Homo sapiens: one gene and its partners. The protein of the gene in region 2 purifies or fractionates together with the protein of the main gene of each other region. This does not show direct contact. Each region holds a gene or a part of one and is shown on either strand. Other genes may lie near its edges.

Region 1 (8,028 bases), on a different chromosome or scaffold from region 2:
CAGACCCTCAGTAGGAAACAGAAGAAAAAAAAGTAAAAAATAAAAAAACCCAAAGTTGCTTCTCATCGGCAGGAAACTTTCTCCTTCGTCAAGGCCTCTGTTAGGGAGCCTGAAACGAGCAGTCCTGCGTCCTTTGGCCAGGAATCCTGTCCTCGGGGAGAAGGCCCCGGCAAGATTCTGGGGACTCAGTCACTCCAGGCTGTGGGGTCTGGAGTGGTCGGGCTGTGAGAGCGAAAGAGGCTAGTTCTTCGGGGCTTTGACTCCAGGGGCAGAAGAGCAGGCCCCCTCCACGGTCCCTTCCTAAGGCAAGCGGCGCCCGCCCCCCACCATACAGAAGTAACTCCCCACTTAGTCGTCCACCTTCCCACCCCCACAGAGACAAACACACACTCTCACACTCACACACAGTAAGCTGGGTCCGGGGGGTCAGTTTACCCATAGATCGCGTCCTTGTCCCGCTTCAAGGCGTCGTTGACAGCGGATCCCATACTGGCCGGCATGACATTGGGGTGCGGGGCGTGCGCGCCGTAGTGCTGTGTGGCGTGGAGCGGCGGCCCGTGGTTCAGGTGGTGAACCGGGGGGATCGGCCGCGGCGCGTGAGGGTCTCCGTACATGGAAGCGGGAACCCCTACTCCGTCCATCCCGCCGTAATGGGGCAGCTCATCGTACTGTCAGAACCCGGGAAGGGGGAGGGGGCGCAGGAGGTGAGGGAGAACAGAGGAGGGGGGTGGAAAGGGAAAAAGAGCAGGGAGAAGAGGGCGAACAGAAAAGAGAGGAAGGGATAAAGATGAGAGAGAGGGAGGGAGGTAAGAGAGAAGAGAGGAGGAGGAGGAAAAGGAGGAGAGGGGGAGAGAGAGAGAGAGAGAGAGAGAGAGAGAGAGAGAGAGAGAGAGAAAATAAAAATAAAAACAAAGTCAGAAAGGAGAAAAGTACCGAGCACAAGTTGAGCACACAGAAACCAAACCAGCCAAAACAACGGAGTTAAAAGTTGTGAGGAAAAAATGTTATTAAATTTAAAAATGAAAAAGCATGAACCAAGAGCAACGTTTAGAGAAGGAAGAGGAGGCGGCGAGGCCGGGGATTTGAGGGGGCGCCGGGAGGCCCCGCTCCCGCCGGAGGCAACAGAACCGTAGCGAGCCAACGGAGGGAGAAGTGGAGTTAGTGTGAGGAGGAAGCCCCGGATCCCACCCCTAACCCCCCTTCGCCTCCTCTGAGGATCCAATAAATCAAAAGGCGAAATGAAACAAAATAAAGAGAAGAAAAACGCTAATAATCAGCACGAGAACGCCGAGGACTAGGAAAGACTAGGGCCAGTGCCTCCCCGGGGGCAGGGAGCGGAGGGTGGGGGGGCGAATAACGTGAAAGTTACCAGAAACATTATTTAGCAGCGGATTCCCTGCGTCCTTGTCAATTTCAGAGACAAAACAAGCAGCCCAGGCTAGTAGTCTAGGCGGCGGCGCAGCGGCTGCGGCAGCGCGGCCCCAGCGGCGGCCCCGGCGGCGGCTCCTACGCAGCCCGTGCCCGCCCCGAGCCGCGCGAGCCACGGCGGCAGCGGCGCAGCAGCGGCAGCAGGAGAACCGGGGGAATCGCGCTGCTGGGGTAAAAGCTGGAGCGAGGCGAAAGCGTGTAACGATTGCACACGCACACACACACACCACTCACACGCACTCGCCGCCCGCCCGCTCGCACAGCGCTGGAACACGCGCGCCCAGACACGCACACACGCACGCACACACACTCGCACACACGCAGAGGCACGGGAGGGAAAGAAGCCGATGAATAATTTTGCTATTTTTTAAAATACTGGCCGCCATCATCAAGCAGCGAGCAGCAGCAGAAGCGTTGAAGGGAGAGGAGGCATCGGGACAGGCCCCTCTTAGGAGAGGATTTATATCTAGGTAAGTGTTGGAGATTTAAACCTACCCTTTGCGCCATCAGTCTGCGCTCCAATAAACTCCTGGATGTGTCGTATATTTAATATCCCAGTCCGGATAAGAAAGTGATCTAGGCTGAAGATTCCTTTTTTTTTTTTCCAAACCAAAGAGACTTCTCCCAATTCTCCAATATGCTATTTTTTAGGGGGGAAAAAAAGCCCAGTCTAGACAACGAAGAATTTTTTTTTCTGTGATATTTCTTCTTTTTCTCTTTTTTCCTCTTCTTCCTCCTCCTCCTGATCTTCCTCCTCCTCCTCCACCTCCTCCTCCTCCCCCCTCCCCTCCTCCTCCTCTTCGGTCCTCCTTTCCCCCTCTTTCTCTTCTCTTCCCCTCAGTTGGAAAAAAAAAGAAAGAAAAGAAAAAGAAGAAAAAGAAGAAAAAAATTGTCAAGCCCCCGAACTGAAGGTTACGAGCGGCCCGTCAGCAGCCCACATGTAACCGAACTGTCGTGTTTCATGGCTTTTTGCCACTCCAGCTGTCAATCAAAGCCCGGAATGTCAAGGTAGTGAATGAATGATGGTTGATGATGATGAAGAGGAGGAATCTTTCAGACCCGTTTTTTTCTTCCAGTAAAACTCCGCGAGGGGTTTCTGCTTCTTGAATTTTTTCCTCCCCCCTCCCCCCTTTTTTAGCTTTGCCCCCGCGGTATCTATAATACGATCCTCTCTCTTTAAAGTATTGTTCAAAGAAAGCAGTGAGAAAAATCAAGAAAAAAAAATGAATAGTTTGCAAAAATTGGACTTCCTCCCCCCCTTTCCTGGTAGGTATTTTGTCTCTCCCTCTCTCTCTTTCTCGCTCGCTCGCTCGCTCTCACTCGCGCTCGCTCTCTCGCGCTCGCTCTCTCTCGCTCTCTTTCTCTCTCTGGGAGATGAGTGAGTGTCAGTAGGTGTTGGCAGGTTGGCTGCTGCCTGGCTTATTGAAGAGCCTCAGTTTGGCGGCGCGGGTCGGCGGCGGGAGAACGAAATGACGGAACCCGGAAGTCGTGGTGGCCATAGCCCGTCGTACGGCGGAGACACATCCCGGGAGTGGGGAGCGGGAGCGAGGAGGAGCGCGCCGCGCCGAGCCTCTGATATGCAACGAGTGCGATCGGACAGCCCCGGCTGGGGGGGTGGGGGAGGCGGGGGGGCGGGAGGGGGAGGGGAGGCTCGAGCCGGGCGGACCCGAGCAAATCAGCAAGCCTGCTCCTCCACGGGGATGGGGGACGGCGGGGGGGAGGAAAAGGAGAGTGTGTCTGTGTGTGTGAGTGTGTGTGTATGTGTGTGCGTGCGCGCGTGTGTGTTGCGCGCGCGCGCGCGCGAACAGGGAGAGAGGGAGAGGGGGAGAGAGAAGAGGACAGGGAGAGCGCAGAGAGGAAAACTGCAGAAAACCACAGGGAAAGTACGGTACCGCCTCAGATCTTTTCATTTAAAAAAAAAAAAAAACTTACTTCTAGTTCATTTTCCCATCACTCCCGGCTCCTGCCTAACTGGGTCTTGCCGGGGACGTTTGGCATGGCGCTCTAGCTTTTGTTCCTTTTAATTCCGCGGCCTCCCTCTCCTCTGCCCGCCGATTACAGCACCCCGAAGGCTTCCTGCTAACGTCCAAGGGCAGCAAGCTCTGCAGACGGTACCACTGCCGGGCTAAATTTTTTATTAAGTGGCACTTTCTTTTCTGCGCAGATCCAGCAACCTTGTCAATACTCATTTTTTTCCAGGACCAGAAGAGACCAGCTTAACTCAGAGCACACTCCCTCCAAGCGGTGCGGACAAGGGGCCACCCCGAGAGTCTTTGGGGGCCGCGGCGGAATCGGGAGGGAGGAAGTGAGGAGGCAGTCATCTGGGTCCGATGTAGCCAAAGGCGTGTGTGTGTGTGTGTGTGTGTGTGTGTGTGTGTGTGTGTGCGCGCGCGCGCCCGCGCGCCCGTGCGCGCGCGCGACTAGTGTGCGTCTCCAAAGTGGATCTCACTCAGAGCTGGGAAGCACAGGAGGAAAAGACGGAGAGAGTGGGGGAGAAAGAAGTTGCCGGGCGAGGAGGAGTGGCCGGCGCTCACAGCCCAGCTTTGTTGTGGTCGCCCGAGGCGCAGCGGCGGGCCGCGGTAACGCCTGCTAATGGCTGTGTTAATTACACAGGGGCGATTTCGCGGGGTCAGGGAGATGGGGCCAGCTCCGAAAGAACTTTTCCAAAAAGGAAAAGGAAACGAAGGGAACTACCCCACACCGTTTGGGTGGAAACTAGTTGTGGCCGGTGCCCTGTCCTCCCTGGCCCGAGCTGCACCAGGCTTCACCTCTGCGCGGCTGGTTTCCCGGCGGCCGCGCGTCAATCACTACGAGCCCGGAGTTGGGGGCGGAGCCACGGTCACCCCGCGCAAGCCTTGCCGCCCAGCAGCCCCCATGCCCCTCGGCCCCTTGTGGCGCGGCCGGGCGGACAGGCGCTGGAAGCGCGTCCTCTCCCCAACTTCTCGCTCTCGCCCTCCCAGTCCCTGGCCCAGAGAGTGGAAAGCGGACTGTTGTTCTCCAACAGCCGCATCCCTCCCCAACTTTGAACCCATTCTGAGAAGTGGAGAGTAGTGTCTTCCGCGAGCCGCGTCTAACCGACTTTCCCGCGGAGGGAGGGTGGGATGGGGGAGGTTGATTAGAGAGAATAAAGTACTCTGTGTGTGTGTTGTGTGTGAGAGAGAGAGAGAGAGAGCGAGAGAGAGCGGGGAGGAGGGCGGGTGGGAGGGCTCTTTTTTTTGGCCCCCGTTCCATGTTCCCTGCTTCACTGTAAGCTTTCGAGCAACAGAAACTAGGCTAAGATTGCAGCCTGCAGAGACTCCAAGCGGAGTCGGAGAAATTTGGCCTCGTTTTAATAGGGCTGAGGAATGAACTCCGGAGGTCAATAAAGCCCTCCAAAAATGATGAATGATTGAGCACCTGTGATGATGATAGTGATTACCAGAGCAATTAAACAGTTTGATTAAATGAGCCATCATAACAATGATGTCTGCGGGAAATCGGCCCTCACATATAAAGAAAGATAGTGCGAAGGGGCTGGCAGAGGCGCGGATAGCGCGACGCCAGGGAGAGGGGCTGCGGGCCGCGAGGTTTCTGCCCAATGGCCCGAGCAGGGACGGCCAGACTCACGGAGCTTCAGGGAGGAGAGTGTAGCCCAGGTTTTCAGCCACTCTTTTTTGCCGGGCTTCAAGCCTGCTAGAGCCGACGGGTAGGAAATCTGAAGGTTGGGGGGAGGGTACTTCCTCCACGTCCTCTTTTTTTTCCTAGAAGAACTCCAAGATTAAAAGTATCCTTATTTGTTGCTGAGTTGCTCGTCGACATTTAAGAGAAGGTGAGTAAAAAAGAAAAGAAGATGAAAGAGAAAAGAAAAAGTTGGTCTCCAGAATTTTATTTCAATCGACAGTTACGCGAATTCAGTTTAGCCGGGACCGGGAGGTTTGAGAGTGCGGCGGGGTGGGGAGGGGAAAAAAACAAAAACGCTGCGGAGCGTTTTCGACTTTGCAAAGCTGTTGATGTTGGTGGGTCCAAGTTCCCGGTGCAGCGCCGCTGGCTGAGAAATTTGTACTCAGTTTTTACTCTTCTAATTATTCTTAAATTCAATTTAAGAATTTAAGTTTATCGTCGCCAATAGGATTATTGTTGTTTTAAATGTCTTGTTCAATAAGTGCCAGTTACGTTTCTTTTTAAAAGAAATTCCTCAGTGTCCTTGATAAACCTTTTTTTGTAAAGATCAACTTCATGCGGAACCTCTGCCTTGCAGGGTTTAAACATTCAACATTGCTACCTTCTGTTTCTTTTTCTGTTTTTATAGTGATACTGTAAAGTGAGTTAGCATCTCTATAGCTTTCATTTAGAAAAACTTAAGTCGCATTTTTAGAAAAATATTCCTTCCCTTGCAGTGTGAGTAAAAACAACTCAGACAGATTGATGATTTCTATATTTTCTTTTCTTTCTTTATCTTCTTTTTCTTTTTTTCTTTTCTTTTCTTTTTTTTTCTTTTTTTTTGAGACGGAGTCTCGCTTTGTCGCCCAGGCTGGAGTGCAATGGCGCGATCTCGGCTCACTGCAACCTCCGCCTCCCGGGTTCAAGCGATTCTCCTGCCTCAGCCTCTTGAGTAGCTGGGATTACAGGGGCGCGCCACCACGCCCGGCTAATTTTTTGTGTCTTTAATAGAGACGGGGGTTTCACCATATTGGCCAGGCTGGTCTCGAACTCCTGACCTCCTGATCCACCCGCCGCGGCCTCTCAAAGTGCTCGAATTACAGGCGTGAGCCATCGCACCCGGCCGATTTCTATGTTTTCAAACAATTGTAAGCTAATAATGAGTTGATTATCTGGTGATAATCTTGGGTTTTACAAAAAAAGAAAAGTTTAAACTTTATTTTCATGTGTTTTTATCAGATGCAGAAGGCATTTTTAACCTTAACGCCTTTCTCTGTCTCTCTCTTTCATATTCTTAACTTCTTTTGCATTTTATTGAATACATTAAAGCAAACAACAGGAACAATATGGTTAGGTGTAGGAGGGAGAGAGAAATATGACATTTTAAGATATTGTCAAAAAGTCATATTTAACTTCAACGACTTTTAGTTAAAAAAGTGTGAGAGTGTTGAAAGTGCATTCCTACTGGAGGAAATCTATGTCTTTTTAAAATTTGCCAGTTGTCTCAGGGGAGAACCCAGAATTTCTTTGAACGAAAGAGATCTTACTGATCTAGTTGCATGTCACTTATGAAACTGTTAGTTTAAAATAGCAGTCCTAGTGTAGTGGATTACACATGAGGAGATCAAGTTGGAGTCGATTCAAGGTATTGGTTCTTGGTCAGTCTGCTGAATTCAAAACACTATTACCTTTAATCAGCAACTTGCGGGTGTTTTATTAATAGAGCTGAAAAAGGCTCATCTAACATATAAGAATTTCCTGGTTTCCCTCATCCCCAATTTTCCAGTCCAATAGAAGCGATTCCAAAGGAGTAGGGTACCCGCACTTACTGATTTCCATCCTGGTGGCATTTTGCTAATGCCCCATTGTCAGCGTTGGCACTCCCACCCAGGCTTCCAGGCTCATCTGCTCTCCCATATTTGGGGTGAAAGGAAAGTAGGTGGGGCAGGCCCGGGAGACAGGCACGAAATGGGGGTCGCAGGAGGTGGCACACACCTCCGTCAACAGTCAGCTCCTTCTGCCCAGGCTGGAAATGGTTTTAACAGGCGGTAAAATTTCATCTTGCGGTGTCAAATTGGGGTCATTTTGGGGTTAGAGTTCTCAGTGTCCGAGAGGAGCTGTCCAGCTGCGTGGGGACTCATTAACTGCAAAAGATCTGTTTCAGTAAAAACAATTCAAAGACAATCAGAAGGCTAAAGACCCTCTACAAATCGCATTTTACAAGTGCCCCAGAACAAATATGGATGGTGAAACCTATTTCTTCAGAATCCCAAATCAGCTACTTAGCTCTGGAGTGGGGGTGGGGGTACTGCATAAAAAAGAGGTGAAAAGGAGGGGACCAAGCGGGTGGGGACCAGTGGAAGGGGGAATCGGGCCTCTCAAATTTAAGAGTCTGTTTTTAATCACCTCTTTCTTATTGAAGCAGCCCCAAGAGTTCTGAAAACTGCTACTTTTCTATTTTTCATTTTCTTTTTTTGAGCCAACATGGAATGCTATTATAGGTAACATTTAAGATTTAAAAGGAATAATTGAATTCCACTATAGTCCCTTAATTTGAAGGGCATTGGCTTTATGGGGAGTGTTTAATTTGAACCAAGAATTTATGAACCCAGACTCTAGGTGAATTTGCCCACACTCCTTAAGGAGCTTGTGTAGCTGTTTCTTTTTCTTTTCCTTGAAAGTTATAGCTTCTTAGCACAGATAACTTCAAATTCCTCAGAACTGAGAAGTCCAAAGTGTTAATCTGTGTATTAAAATCGCCAGGTTTAAATCCTTTTTGTCTTCTTACAACAGTTAGAACAATTGACGCCTTGCTAGAGAAGCAAATAAGTCCAACCTTAATCTTATCTGTAACTTTATTTAATGTTTTGATTTGGAATATTTTGGATTAAGCATATCTTTAAAAACTCTGTAAGGTTAATTTTTATTCCGGGAGGGAAGTTCTCTTTACTGATTTTGAAA
Region 2 (7,976 bases):
TGTGACTTATAATGTGGACAGTATAATCTTGATGACTGTCATTAACACATCTTACATATATTTAAATATAATTACTTCAATAAAATTTCATCAACTAGAATACACTAACAAATCATATCTGGGTTATTTACTTTTCTTTCTGTTTTTAGTGAAATAATTTTTAAATTCAGAGAACTTAATAGTGTTTTATTTCCTCATTTACAATTTGACCAAAAATAAAAATCAATGTTCATTTTTTTAAAAAAAAAAAGCATTTTCATAAGTATGTAGAATGATTAAGTATATAAGAACTAAAAATGTAGCACCCACATAGATGTTTCAAAGTTAGAATTTAGAGGATAAGACTATATACCAGTAAACACGTGGTCCTTTGTTTTCCAAAAAGTATAAATCCTCCAGAAATGCTTTCTTTTCTTAAGTCAATAATCTGATTATTTTTTGAAAGCTTCTAAAATATTTCCTGGAAAATAAGATCATGTATTCTAAAATTTGTTTACTCTTTAGTAAAGATTATTGAGATACAATATATTATTTTTACAGATAATAAAATAATAGATACCTTTTAAGTCTCGTTAACATGATAAAGTAACAAATGCACTGACGTTAACTCAGTAAATACATTTTTAAGTAAAGATCAGCAAAAAATAAAACAGTTTAAGAATTTTGTATTCTCTGGAAACATAAACAGGATTATAACTGTCAGATTACAGAAGCACTGACTTCAGCCATTAGTTTGGTTTGGCTCCTGAGAAACACAACATGAACTACTGCATCATTTCTTTTCAAATCCATACATTCCCTGCAGCCGTTCAAGCTTCATCAGCAGTGCAGGAATGTATAAAAATGACAGGCAAAGGGCATTAGGTTTTTTTACTTCCATACTGTTTTCCTATAAATGGAAGACAGGATTCTTTCTCAAAGCACTTAAGCTCAAGCTCAGTCAATGCTGAAGGAAAAATACAACTGAATTCTCTATGCAAGAAAGTATCACAATTGGATTATTTACTACTTTTCAAGGACATGTTGATAAATCTAATACTGTATTATTATCTTAGAATAAAACATTGTAAGGTTAGCATTCTAGCTTAATTACCCATTATTCTTCAATTAGAAATATTTTCACTTTTTAAAGTACTCTGTCAACTCATCACCTTATTTTAACACCAAGTATTCAGTTTTGCTTCTAATTTTAATTATAAAAATTTCCTTAAAATATGCCAATTTTTTTTGAAAATATATTTGTATAAATAGTTAATTTTTTATTTCCAAGTTTCTGTACTCATAAAGGTTTCGGTGAAATAGGAAATTCCATTAATAATTAAAAGTTTATTTAACCATGATAAGTAAAAATAGGATGTAATGAGTAATCTGGTTATTTGACTGGACCTTAAACATTCACATTGCTATAAAACTAGTACCGTAATTACTACAACCTGACTCAATTTTTTGAAGAAACTGGGAAATTTTCAGACTAAAGTTTTAAACATCCTCATATTTTAGTTTATAGTAACTAAAAACATGCCCACTTCAGTACTATCACCTACATTCTTTATGTTCCTAATGTAATGATGCAAGAGGTAAAGCCTAGAGAAGTCTGAAGGTTACGGACTACCTGATATCCAAAACAAAAAATTCAGATCACACCCTGAATGTCCTCCTTCCCTTTTTAGGAATGTCCTGCAGCTAGCCCAGCACCACAGCTCTGGGCTGAAGCATGCCAATGTTGGCACTGCCTAAGCCAAACAAACAAGATGTTTAACAGTCAAATAAAATGTCCTGCAGCCTCCCTAATGAATTTGTCAAGGACCATCAGATTTCGCACCCCCTCCTTTGCCTCATTAACTCAAGTATGATGAGACGGATTATAACAAGAGAATACAGATGAATCGGTCTGAAGACTTGAAGTGGCTTTTAGCCTCTAGAGTTTCTTTCTCTCACTTGGTCTCCTTTAATAGAATATAGTATCTCCTGCAGAAGGAGCTGCCAGTTCGTTTTAATACACCATCAAGGAGCTGCTGATGGACTTCTATACTAACATACATAAAAGCAGAGGTGACAGGGGCTCTTCAATTACAGCCTCCTCGGATACCGTTTCCCCCTTCAATTATTCAACCAGAGGAAGAGAGGACCGCAAAGGCGCAGCTGAAGCTGCTCTTAGAGCAGAGGCAGCCAGAGTGAGTTGGGGTGGGGGAGGGGGGAGAAAGAGAACCAGCAAGAGGGAGCATTATTTGCTGGAAGTGTTTAAGTTTATTGCTCGAATGATGTTTCTAATTAGTACCACGGCCATAAATTAAAGTCGCCTTTGTTTAACTGATTTATTATTTACTAGAGCATCTACCTAAGACAGGGTAAATTGGTAATGAATTGTTTTTAAATCAAAACATTTGTAACGTTTTATCATCCTTCCCTCTGTATGTAAAAGTGGAGAAGCGTAGGGGCAAGGATGCGAGAAAACTTAGCCGAGCTTGACAGAGCCGCCAGTGGAGGTGCAGCGGAGTGTCCGGCGAGTGGTGGCGCGAAGGTCCGCTCGGCCTGGGACGCCCCACCCGAGAGAAGAGGAGAAGGCGCAGGACTTGCGGCGCGGCGGCGGAGCCATGCGAACCAACTCCGCCACCCCTGAGGCTGTTTGCAAACACTCACTCTCGGGAGCGTCGCGGGCCGGGCCATTCGCGAACCAGACGCAACGACGAAGCGACCACCTCGAGAGTGGGGCGGGAAAGCTCCGCACCCTCTATCCCCGCCACCAGTCTCCGCCCAGTAACTGCCCCCGGAGAAGCAACCACGGAGCCCCTCCCGGCCAGTCGCGCTCTCCCGGCAGCGCAGTGCCCTCCGGCCCAGGCAGTTCCCAGAGCGCCGGCAAGGCCTCCCGGGTTAGAGCCGGGCTCCCACAGGCGCGAACTCCGAGGGCGCGAGGTCCCCTAGATCCTTAGGCGGCGAGGCGTTCCGGGACGCACGCGGCCTCCCCGGAGAAGGCTGGAGGTCAAGCAGCCCAAGTCTCTGCCACTCCAGAGAAGTTAACTAAAGCTCTGGAGTCCAAGAGTCGCGCGGACACTTAATTCTGACTCTTCTTCCTAATCGCGGGAAGACAAACCCTAAGCAACAAATCCGAGATAGTTTTTTTTTAAGCAAATATTCCTTAGAAAGGGACTTATGGCAACGAGAGAGGAAGGGTGACAAACTGCCTGTGGTCCGCACCAGGTATGTAAGAAAGAACCAAGAGGCCCAATTGTCTGATACCAAGTAGATAGAAAGAAATTAACTTCCCTATGCAATTCAATTCAGGTTCACCCGGCCGGACTTTAAGAGGGTAAGTCAAGCCCTCCCAAGGGGTTTTGAAAAAGCCGAACTACCAGGTTTCTAAAACGAAGTCTTCACCCAAATGGACGCATAGATTTTTATTTTTATCGCATAACCCAGGGCTGGAATATAACCTCCCAAATCAAACTAAAAATAATCACATCTACCTGAAATACGTTAAAAAGATTCAGAATCCAGACATCTTAGGTTCATACATAAACCCTCAGTATCAAGCAAATCAGAAACAATGTTCTAGCTTTTTTTTTCACCCAAAAGTATGGAAAGGCTACAGTGGGTACAACTCGTTTAGGATAATACATATACTAAAAGCACATGCATGCCTTTCATTGAAATGCCTAGGGAGGAGTGAAGCCATCTGTGTAATCAATAACAGGATAGTTATAGATTTTTGTGGCAGTGAAGTCTTTTAAAAGCAAGAGTCAATTATGAAAATAAAATCATTTTACAAATGAAACTCTGTACCTGTACCCCCTAAGAATACATTCACAATTAGATTTACAACAGTAAGATTTTAAGAAAACTTTAGGTTTACATTTACTTGCCTTGTTTTTCATTAAGTTTGAAGCAATTTTAGTAGCTTATTTTAAAAGTATATCCTACTAAGTTCTACGACATGTAAGTTTGCACCATTTCTCACAACTTAGATATTTTCTCTCTCGTAACTAGTTAATTCTTGTAACGATAAAATAATGGTATTAAATACATGTGAATCTTAATTATGAAATAATTATCAAACAAGGTGCTTGGACTAGTTTTTGCCCTGCCCTGTTTTTAAACAGCATATCGAAATTACTAAAAAGAGATTTATAAACCCTCACCTTATATCCACTCCAACCCTCACTGGTGCACATATACAGCAACTGCTCTGATTCTTGGCAACAATGGGAGGGGAGGGGAAGAGAAAGGAGGATGACTTTAAAGGAGGAAAAAACCTGGAAAAATTAGGTCCTTTCCCAGATTCCCCTTTCGCTTCCCATTTGCCTTCAAGCCAAAGTAATTTTGTTACAGTTTGCACCTTCTACTACACAATGTTGATAGAATCATTTAAAAAAAAAAAAAGTGAACCTTTCTGAACCATTGCTACTCTCCCTCGCGTTATTCCAGCCATCTCCAGGAGAGTCCCTTCTATATAAACTCTTTTTCTTCTTTGCTACTGATAAGAGAGGAGGATAAAGAGGAACGGCTGTAAAATGTGTGCAAGCATTTGACTCCCATTATCTCCTCCTATTTTCTTACTTCTCTCTTTACCCTGTTTCTTTATCAAGTGCAGTGGTGGCTGCTACCGTTCGCCAAGCGTGCCTGTCTTCTCTCTCGGATTGGCTAAAGCACTGACAGCTCGGATAGCGATTGTAGGAACTGAAGCTCCACCCCCTCATGATGGCCCTGGGACCATTCATAAACTAAATAACTCCAGGAAACAGCGAGGGAGAGAGAGAAAGAAAGAGAGAGGGAGAGAGAGAGACAGAGAGAGTTAGAGGAAAGAAGAGAGAGCGAGCACGAGGAAGGGGGGCGGGGGAGAGAAGCAGGGGGAGAGCGGGGCGAGAAAGAGGTCGGAGGGGAGAGGAGGGGGAGAGACGACTCAGAAAGTGGAATCTGTAAAAGCAAGCTAGAGGAGAAGAAGGAAAACCCTGAATCGTTATAACTACACCCCAGATGCAACGCAAGCAACGACTTCGTCACACTAAAACGGATTTTGTGAGGGCCAAAAGTATAAATTACGAAGCAGAAATGATTATCAAACAACTTCCAGCGGTTTGCACCTAAAGAAACACAAGGAGAACCCACTACAAACAAACAAACCCAGTCCAAACAACGCCTCCAGTAGGAAAAGAGGAAAACTGCGATAACACGACCCCCCGAGAAGAGACGAGACCAACACGCTGAGACTGTGGGGCGTCAGCAAACCTCCAAGTGCACGGCGGACTGAGTTGTACTTCGCAGCTCTCTGGACATTAATTACCTCCTGCACCTTCCATTTGGGGGAGGGTGAGGAAGAAGGCACTCACCTACACTGAGCGAAGAAGTCCTATCAGCGTGGAAGAGAAGTTTAAGAATGAACCACTGAATGTTTCGCTTTTATTTTTAAATTTACTTTGGCACTTAAAAAACCTCATTTCCAGATTTCTGGACAATCTCGGCTGCAGACATCTAAGCCTAACCTTTTGGTATCCTGAGTTTTTTCCCTCTCCTTCTCCTTCCTCACGCCCACCCCGCTTCTCTCGCACACGGTCATCTTTACATATCAAGAGAAAGCAAAAAGGTTCCAAGAGGTACTTTTCTTTTTAGAAAATCACCTTTTCTCCCCTAATTCTTCTGCAGAAGAAAAGAGGTTTCGAAAGAGGGAAAAGGAAAAAACAAGCCGGCTACGGTATCAGCCGGTCAGCCCAGGTGGAAAACGAGAGTGAAAGTAGGGCTTAACGGGGAGCGCACCGCCTCTTTCGAAAGCCGCTGGGCCACCACCAGTGCGTGAGCCTTGGATCCCTCAACGTATTGCGAGACGCCGGTGTATAGCCCGGACCTGTGCCCCAACATGATCGCCGCTCAGGCCAAGCTGGTTTACCAGCTCAATAAGTACTACACTGAGCGCTGTCAGGCGCGCAAGGCGGCCATCGCCAAAACCATCCGAGAGGTCTGTAAGGTGGTCTCGGACGTGCTCAAGGAAGTGGAGGTGCAGGAGCCTCGCTTCATCAGCTCCTTGAGCGAGATCGATGCCCGCTACGAGGGGCTCGAGGTCATTTCGCCCACCGAATTTGAGGTGGTGCTCTACCTAAACCAGATGGGCGTCTTCAACTTCGTGGACGACGGCTCGCTGCCCGGCTGCGCAGTGCTCAAACTGAGCGATGGGCGGAAGCGGAGCATGTCTCTCTGGGTCGAGTTCATCACGGCGTCGGGCTATCTCTCAGCGCGTAAGATCCGCTCGCGTTTCCAGACGCTGGTGGCCCAGGCGGTGGACAAGTGCAGCTATCGGGATGTGGTCAAGATGATCGCGGACACCAGCGAGGTCAAGTTGCGCATCAGGGAGCGCTATGTGGTGCAAATCACTCCGGCGTTCAAGTGCACCGGGATCTGGCCTCGCAGCGCGGCACAGTGGCCTATGCCCCACATCCCTTGGCCCGGCCCCAATCGGGTGGCCGAGGTCAAGGCCGAAGGGTTCAACTTGCTCTCGAAGGAGTGCTACTCGCTGACCGGCAAGCAGAGCTCGGCAGAGAGCGACGCCTGGGTGCTACAGTTCGGGGAGGCGGAGAACCGCCTGCTGATGGGCGGCTGCCGAAACAAGTGCCTCTCAGTGCTGAAGACTCTGCGGGACCGCCACCTGGAGCTACCCGGCCAGCCGCTCAACAACTACCACATGAAGACGCTGCTGCTGTACGAGTGCGAGAAACACCCACGAGAAACGGACTGGGACGAGTCGTGCCTGGGCGACCGGCTCAACGGCATCCTGCTGCAGCTCATCTCCTGCCTGCAGTGCCGCCGCTGCCCTCACTACTTTCTGCCCAACCTCGACCTCTTTCAGGGCAAGCCCCATTCGGCCCTGGAGAGCGCTGCCAAGCAGACCTGGAGGTTGGCCAGGGAAATTCTCACCAATCCCAAAAGCCTGGACAAACTATAGGGTGCTGGGGACTGCTTGAAAAGCGACACAAACGGGCGTGCTCTCTCAGACACACAACTCTGCTATAAACAGCAGAAACTCTGGACACAAACTTTTATGTAAGTCACCTGAAATAGGAATCCGGCAGAAGACCTTCATTAATTAAGAAGCAAACAAAAAGAGAGCAACCCAACCAAAACAAATCACATTCTTGCACAAAAGTGATCGTTTTCTTCCAAACAATGTGAATTTAAAAGGTCACACAAAAGAAGCAATCGGGCTCCGCCACCACAAAATGAAACCCAAGGTACATTTTCAAATCAATGTATAGTAGTTCCCCCCCCTTTTCCTTCTTTCCCCCTATCCTTTTTCTCTCCACCCCATCCCCCCCCCCATTTCGTTTTGCTTTTGGTTGCCTGAATGTTGTCACCAAGTGAAAAAATTATTTAACTATATGTAAAATTTCTCTTTTAAAAAAAAGTTTTACTGATGTTAAACGTTCTCAGTGCCAATGTCAGACTGTGCTCCTCCCTCTCCTGAACCTCTACCCTCACCCTGAGCTGTCTTGTTGAAAACAGTAATAAAAACATTACTTTACATTGTAATTGACTGTTTGTGGATTGTTCTTAAGTGAAGGCAGGTGAGATCACAGTTTATAATTTCCAATGTAAAGATGTGACGAGGAATCAAATGCAAGAAGCTTCCACTTGAACTGATTTGCAAAATTTTAAATACAGTACATTTTGTAGAATTGACTGTATAAGTTCCGACCCAAATCCTTAGAAAATAGAAAACACTAATTTTACTCAACTATAATATATATTTGTTCTGTAGATGTTAAGATTAAAAGTAACATCTACTTCACGCTTGGGAAAAAAGTATGAAAGAAAATATTTTGATCCTAATTTTTAAAATAGAAAAAACTTTTTCACATTAAAAATTAAGAGATGTGCTTTCTTATGCCATAATTTCAAAAAATCCAATCTGAATCCGATATACAAAGGAAATATTTATGGATTTTTCTGAATAGTTAACAAAGTCAGTTGATACTTTTCCTTCAACCGTTTGT
Region 3 (7,028 bases), on a different chromosome or scaffold from region 2:
TTAAAGACCAGGTCCTTAACCACTACTATTATAGTTTATCATAAAATTATTTAAGCAACTTTTCTATGGTCTTATAACTACTTAGTAGAAGGTCCAGAACTAGCACAGAGTGTGAGGTATACCCACCCCAATACCTACTTAATGACAAAAGTTTCAGTAGAAGATGCAGTTGAAACTACAACCTAAACCAAAAAGGATGAATTTTCCACCCATTGCAATCTCAATTTCCACCAATAATTGAGAGATTGAAAGAGAGCTGTTAGAGGTAAGAAGACCTTCGGGTAAGACACTATTGACCTTATTCTGCCATCATGGGGGATAGGTGTTATAATCTTATGACAATCTATTCCTGCACCTTTTTTCCCCTCTGGGGATCACTCTGCTAAGTTCCGAGAAGTGCCATCTTTGAGATGCAGATGGGGCAAAGATACAACCAGAGAACTTTCCTCATGAGCGACGATCGATTACCCCATTACTTAAAGACCAGTAGACGTACATTTTTTTTAGCCTGAAAGAGTGAAATGCAGTGATATCCTGTGAAATAAGATATGAATCCTGAGATAATTTATTATAGAAAATACAGTGCCTTAATTATTTACATAACCCACAGGAACTCAAAGCACTTCACAAACAACTCATGAATTCTCTACTTATTTATCAATTATTGCATTCCTTAAATCTTACCACACCATTGCAGGTAAAGGGCAATGGAACCAAAATTATTATATTCCTCCAAATCAGGTTAATATGGCAATGAAAATGAATGGGTGCTTCTTAGGGTCATAAGAGAATGAATAAGAGCTGTTTGGAGCTGGACCTAGGACACTGTCTCTATCATGTGGTGCTTTGGTAAACTTTTTTTTTAAAGGAAAAGCAATAAAAAGAATATTTAGATTCGCTTCACCAAGTTCAAACATAGTATCATCCATCTAAAAGAGATTTGAAACCAAATTGAAGAATAAGCTTTCCTAAGATATGCCTATGACACAAAAGAAGTCAGGGTCATGCTTTACAAATGAAAATGTCTTCCAATTTAAATTATGTGCAACATCTAGGTTTTGGTTTATTTGCTCGTTTGGGGGTATTTTTATAATTTTGCCAACAACCACAACAAAAAGTTCATGGATGTCAACAGAATGCAGGGGCAAAACCATGTGAATAGGTCTGGCACCAGCAGTGAACTAAACACACAGGCAGGTAATGCCCCCTTCTCAGCCAACAGTGCAGCCTACTGTACAGAACCCACCCACACCCGGCCCAGCTCAATGCCCCACAGCTCTTAGTTCACAAGGTTCTATGTTTCCCCGCTTATAAATCCCCTTCCAGATCCTTCAGTATAACCTAAATCGCTCTCATGTCCAATCCTCACAGACACTCCTATTGTTAGAAAAAAATGACACCAAAATTTCCCAAATTCTCATTCTGGCAGCTTTGACCAAATTGCTCTTTGCACTTCTCAAAAGCCAGAATTGTTCTAATTCTAGTAGTAGACTAAAAATGGAATACACAAAAGTGACTAAAAAGAAAAGTCATTTCTCATTACAAGTTCTTCTTATATTATGTCTGTCAGAGTTATATTGTTGTAGGTCTACGGCTTATATCCACATTATAATAAATAAATAATATAGGGTCTAACCACATTACTTCTGCCTTAACACACTGTACCTGAAAGATAGCATCAGGTAAAACTGATTTGTAAGTTCCTTTCATTTGATCCCCTTTTCTTTCCTCTGCATCTTTACCAGGAGGGAGAAAAAAAAAAAATGAACCAAATTCTTGAATTTTCTCATCAGCAAGAAAAGTTTTTGCATTTGCTGGCTATCGATGACCTTCTACAAAAATGACTCCTACCACTTCAACCCCAAAAGGAATCTGATCAGAGGCTGCTTCTAAATGGTTTAAAGTTATTTTACTCCTATTTTGCTCAAGGCCTAATACCATCAGAATTCTCTTCCCGCAATCTCTAGCTTCCTTCCATAACCCACCGCCCCTCCACCTACATATGCAAACATACACACACACATATACATAGACACACAAATTATTCTCTAATGCTTTAAAGGGGAGAGGAGAGGAGAAGTCCCATAATGTAATTGCTATATTAAAAAGAAGTGGCAGGCGAGAATAATAAGGGAGGGTGTCAAAAGTGAAATAAAGTAGTAGAATTAAAAAAACACACACACACTACAGTTCTGTGATGGGGGTGTTAATTGAACACAGAGAGAAAAGGAAAGAGAGAGAACAAAAGGGTGTTAAGGAGCAAAAAATAAATTTTTTTAACCTCCTCCAAAGATTTGATTTGCGTTAACTTTGATGCAGACAATGCACAGAGGAAAATTGGCTGAAAAGTGCCATATATAGCTATTATGTTCTAAAATTAAAAACTATTCACAACAATTGCAGCTATTCATTGCTATCTATAAATATTCTCCTTAGTAAATGGCATTCAATATTTTTCGTGTTTTCCTAATTTTTAAACTTGCGTGATTTTGACACAGGAATAAAAAACATCAGGAAATGTTTAAAAATATATTCAAGGTTTTTTTAAAGAAATGTAATATGCTTGACTTTTTCTCCTTTTCTTCTATCCCACCAACCCCATTACCACCATATATACACATATGCAAAACTTAGCCTATTACTAATATGCCAGAAGACAAGGAATGGATCTTAAAAATCCAAAAGAAAGTGTTATATTAAATGATCCAAAACTCTAATTGTCTCTGTATTCCTAGAATGAGCGAGCAGATAAAAGCCACATGTGAAATATACATTGCTATAGGTCTTGACAGGGTTTTTTAGCTGCTCTTTGAGAATTGCCACCCGAGCATTTTGCTGGCACTTCTTCTTAGCATTTATTTTTTTAAAAGCGAAAATGTATCAGAATAAAAACTACCCACATTCTGAAGCAAGAAGATGCATGGGTTCTTTTGTTTTGTTTTGTTTTTTAAATATCCCCACAGTAATTTCTGACTTAAACACCCATCAATCAATTGTAATTCAGATGGCACCTTCTACTTTGGGGTGTTACGTGCATGTGTGTATGTATTTTTAAAGTTCCAAAAGGTTGGTAATACATCTTAGCCAGTTTTTGTATCTATTTCTAAGTCTTCCAACTATAAAATCATTAACAAATGCAAAAAAGCAAAAATAACAAATCAATGCAATTACCAAGTTCCTCTCAAGAGTTCTGCCTAGGTGAGCCAAATGTATGAACTTCGTGTTAGAATACAAACAAACAAAGCCCACCCTAAATCAAGTAACCTCTATTATTATTATAAGCATTATAATGCTTGAGATGGAAACTCAAAAATACTCATTTAATGCAAAAAGGCTTGAAAGTAACAATAGAAAAAGTCCCCAAACAATAAAGGAATGTATGTGAACTGATCACTCAAGCGATGTTTTCACCAGCTCTGTATCAAGAAGAAGAGGGGGAAAAAAAAAAAAAAGCTCCTGCAACTTTACAGACACTTTGTTCCTCCGACCCATCAACTGCATGAAAGATATGCTGGCAAAAAGATTGAAGGTTCCAGGGTCTTGAGTAGCCAAGTAATCGTGCTTTAGAATCAAAGGGTTCTTTTCAGCAGACCACAGTTGACTCCTACCTTTAACACAACACTCAACATTCCAGGAGAGGTTTTTGCCTTCCCTTCAATCCTTCCAACACACAAGTTGAAGACTAAGAGGGAGGTAAGCCTTTTTTTTCCCCTACTTTCACCCAGGGGTGCCCTCTTAATCCAAGACTTGTGTGTGTGTGTGTGTGTGTGTGTGTGTGTCCCTTAACACAGGGGGCAATGACTCTTATCACTTTCAATTACATTATTTGTAAATTGTTTTTTTAAATATGTTATTCTAGAGACAACACAAAAAACCTTAATTTAGATTTTTTTAAGTCTCTAAACATTAAATGTATTGACACAAAATTTAAAATACAAAACTTTTAGAATGTTACTTTGACCAATACGACTGACTACTTTACTTCCTATCATTATACTTGAGCCAACATGAACAAGGAGCGAACTCTTTAACCCTCACCTGAACCGGATCTCTATTCACACCCACCCACTTTAATCTACTGCCTCAGTAGGTTTTAATTAGGAAACTAGAATTAAGCACTTTGGCCACAATGTACATTTAAGTGCCCTGACAGGCTTCCTTTCAATAAAAATCTGATAAAGTATCTTCAAAAATAGACTCTCTTTAGTCCATATTATCACATATGCTTTTATATTTTGATTCTACATTTCATGAAACAAGATCAGCAGGAACTCATACTTGGTTAGAAACAAATCTCAACAAACCAAACACTCAAAGTAAATAAGCATCAGAGATCAAAGAAGAAAAAAGAGAGAAGATAAAAAAATATATATAAATATATATATACACACACACTTAAGTTTCCTACTCTGGGCTAATAGAAAAAAGAAACTAAAAAGTGTGACAAACTGGAAAAAACTCTTTTGATATTTGAATGCACAGTCCATAAATCTTTTAAAAGTTGTCTCACAGCTAAAATAATGCAATTAACAGGTTTGCAATAAGGTTAAGCTTTGGCAAGGCAACCTGGAAGACTTAGAGGTCTGAACATCACTTCTCAGGTGCTTTGTCTAGAATGTTATGCACAACACAAATAACATTCAACAAAGGAGCTGCGTACTAATTTTACACGCATTTCAAGACCCAAGTAATTACATATTCATTCAACAGTCACATCTTGAAACTATTTTTTTAAAAGAAAAACACAGAGAGCTCTCAAAAAGAAAGCCACCCTGTGTGCCCTCTCCCCCCGCCCATTTTTTATGTGTAACTATCAATGTATATCAACCAAGCATGCAATCATATTTATTGTCACTTTCATTCATGTCATGCCCTTGCTTATATGGTTTAGATATGAATTATTGACTGTTACACTCCTTGTTGTAAAAAATAAATAAATAAATAGGATGTCAGGTACTTTGCACTGCTCTAAAGCGAGCGGGTAAGTCAGAGCCCAGCAGAAGCTCCCGCTTTATATAACCACCCCTTGTCCCTCATCTTTATTCCCTGGTTTCAGATTGCCTTCTCAAATCTTTCTTCTTACAAGGGAGAGCTTTACCCACTTTGGAAAATTAAGGATTAAAATAAACAAGGGGATGTCGCTAAATGTCCTTCCCAGAGCATCTGTTGTTTAAGAACACCTCTGATTGATGACTGCTATTTTTTAATTGTTGCTTTAAAATTTAAATGCCCTCCTGGGATGTGTTATAAGTGTGTTAGTCCACGAAACGAGGTCTAGAAAGTAGAAAAACAACAGAGTGAATTATCTCATGGCGTTATACTCTCCTAAACCCAACGATTCTCCCTGCAATAAAATCACAGGCCACTCAAATACCGATAACCTAATGTTGTATAGCGCATTCCACAAAGGTATTTGACAACACTCTCTGTTGAGAACCTCTAGTCTGCTGCTTTGTGTAATTACAAGAAAAAAAGGAAAGGAAACTTTCAACAGTTTAGCACCCCCACACCCAACTCCAAAAAAATTAGGGTTTTAAAAATGGGCCAAAATATATTCCTTAAAAAAATGAACTTTTACTTTCATATTTTTGCCCCAAAGATACATCAGTCTATAAATTTCCTTTCAGAATCTATATTTTAGCCCCAATCTCAAAAAGGCTGGAAATAGAGTTCTGGAAAATTAACCAGTAGTGCTTGATAATAACTGTCAAAGAAACTTGATTCTTTTTTTTAAGGAAAGCAGGGCTAGGACTTCCTATTCGAATATGAGGTCAACCTTCATAGTACTTGTATTCTGAAATTTTAATATTTAAATAATAGATTTGTGACTGCTGGTTAAGTGATTTAATTGGCCAAAGAAAATGCTAAAATGTTGGAATCTCATTCCTACCTGTTTTTTCTTTGATTTCACACAACACATTAAACAAGGCAGGCTTCATTCTGTGGCAGTTTAAAGCATGTTTTCTGCAAGAAAGAAACAACATGATAGCTTAGGTGGACTCTCAAGATCAAACTGCCGATAATGCACAGGGTGAAAACATTTGAACATTTAGACAAAATTATATACCCAACCCTAACTCTGTGGCATGCTTCAGTTGTTTTCATGACTTAATATACAGAGTCCCGCCATAGAAAAAGAAATAATGTTAATTAGCAGGGAGAGGGTAGGGATTTAACTACAGAACAGAACTAACCTAAATTATGCCCATTTAGGGAAAGGGTTTTTTTTTTTTTTTAAGTAGTTTAATCAAAGAGTAATTCTTAAACCCACAATTCTTCCCAGGACAATGAACACAGCAAAGCCAAAGGTGTAGGTTAACAGTTTTGTAAAATCCATGCAACGACCACAGCCTAGGAACTGTCTGCCTCTCGGTCTGTGTGTTTTCAAATTTAATTCATCCATGTGTTCGAATTCATTCCGCAGATGCCCCTGTATTCTCATAAACACAAGATGCTTGAAAGGTCTTCTGAGTAGAACTGTCAATTTATAACATTTCAGTCCCCAAGTTAAAGAGTATGGAAATGCATTGCCAGGGGGCAAACATACCCATATGGGGAATAAATTCATTTCTCTGTGTTCACATTATGCTTCTGTGCACACACTGCTTATTTGCAGGTGTTGAAATTCAATTATTTACAATTAGGACCTTGCACCCATTGGGGGAAAAATAAATGCAATTTTGTCTTTTAGATTAGTGATTTACCTGGTGTGTGTGTGTGTGTGTGTGTGTGTGTGTGTGTGTGTGTGTATTCTGAATGCACTTGAGGAACAAAACAATACCTTTCCTTCTATTTTATTATGGAACCACTTAGCAGAATGATACTGTTTTGGAAACAAAATACTGATCATATCAGCTATTAGTTAAGTGAATTCTGTCTACTAACTAAAATTAATGTGTAAAGATAAATGGAAAGTTCTGGCACTCAAAACACATGCAATTCTTTTTTAATCCCTTTGAAAGTTAAAAAATAGACACATCCTCATGAAGAACAGAGATCAGAAACATGCCCTATGTACTGTACAGCAG

What was found.
Region 1: the proteins of MAB21L2 (region 2) and MEIS2 purify together in Homo sapiens (affinity purification with mass spectrometry; 4 studies listed by BioGRID and IntAct, with this or other methods). This does not show direct contact.
Region 3: the proteins of MAB21L2 (region 2) and PBX1 purify together in Homo sapiens (affinity purification with mass spectrometry; 3 studies listed by BioGRID and IntAct, with this or other methods). This does not show direct contact.

Annotation. Positions count from the first base shown.
Region 1 is NC_000015.10:37,097,532-37,105,559, forward strand, and holds the start of MEIS2 (homeobox protein Meis2), read right to left. Parts: upstream 3,019-8,028; 5' UTR 1,936-3,018; coding exon 1,924-1,935; intron 1,899-1,923; exon of another isoform or gene 1,717-1,898; intron 1,576-1,716; exon of another isoform or gene 1,370-1,575; intron 1,166-1,369; exon of another isoform or gene 669-1,165; coding exon 436-668; intron 1-435. UniProt on the Homo sapiens protein: Involved in transcriptional regulation. Binds to HOX or PBX proteins to form dimers, or to a DNA-bound dimer of PBX and HOX proteins and thought to have a role in stabilization of the homeoprotein-DNA complex.
Region 2 is NC_000004.12:150,577,182-150,585,157, forward strand, and holds MAB21L2 (protein mab-21-like 2), read left to right. Parts: upstream 1-4,969; 5' UTR 4,970-5,848; coding exon 5,849-6,928; 3' UTR 6,929-7,512; downstream 7,513-7,976. UniProt on the Homo sapiens protein: Required for several aspects of embryonic development including normal development of the eye.
Region 3 is NC_000001.11:164,562,174-164,569,201, reverse strand, and holds part of PBX1 (pre-B-cell leukemia transcription factor 1), read right to left. Parts: intron 5,965-7,028; coding exon 5,891-5,964; intron 1-5,890. UniProt on the Homo sapiens protein: Transcription factor which binds the DNA sequence 5'-TGATTGAT-3' as part of a heterodimer with HOX proteins such as HOXA1, HOXA5, HOXB7 and HOXB8. Binds to the DNA sequence 5'-TGATTGAC-3' in complex with a nuclear factor which is not a class I HOX protein.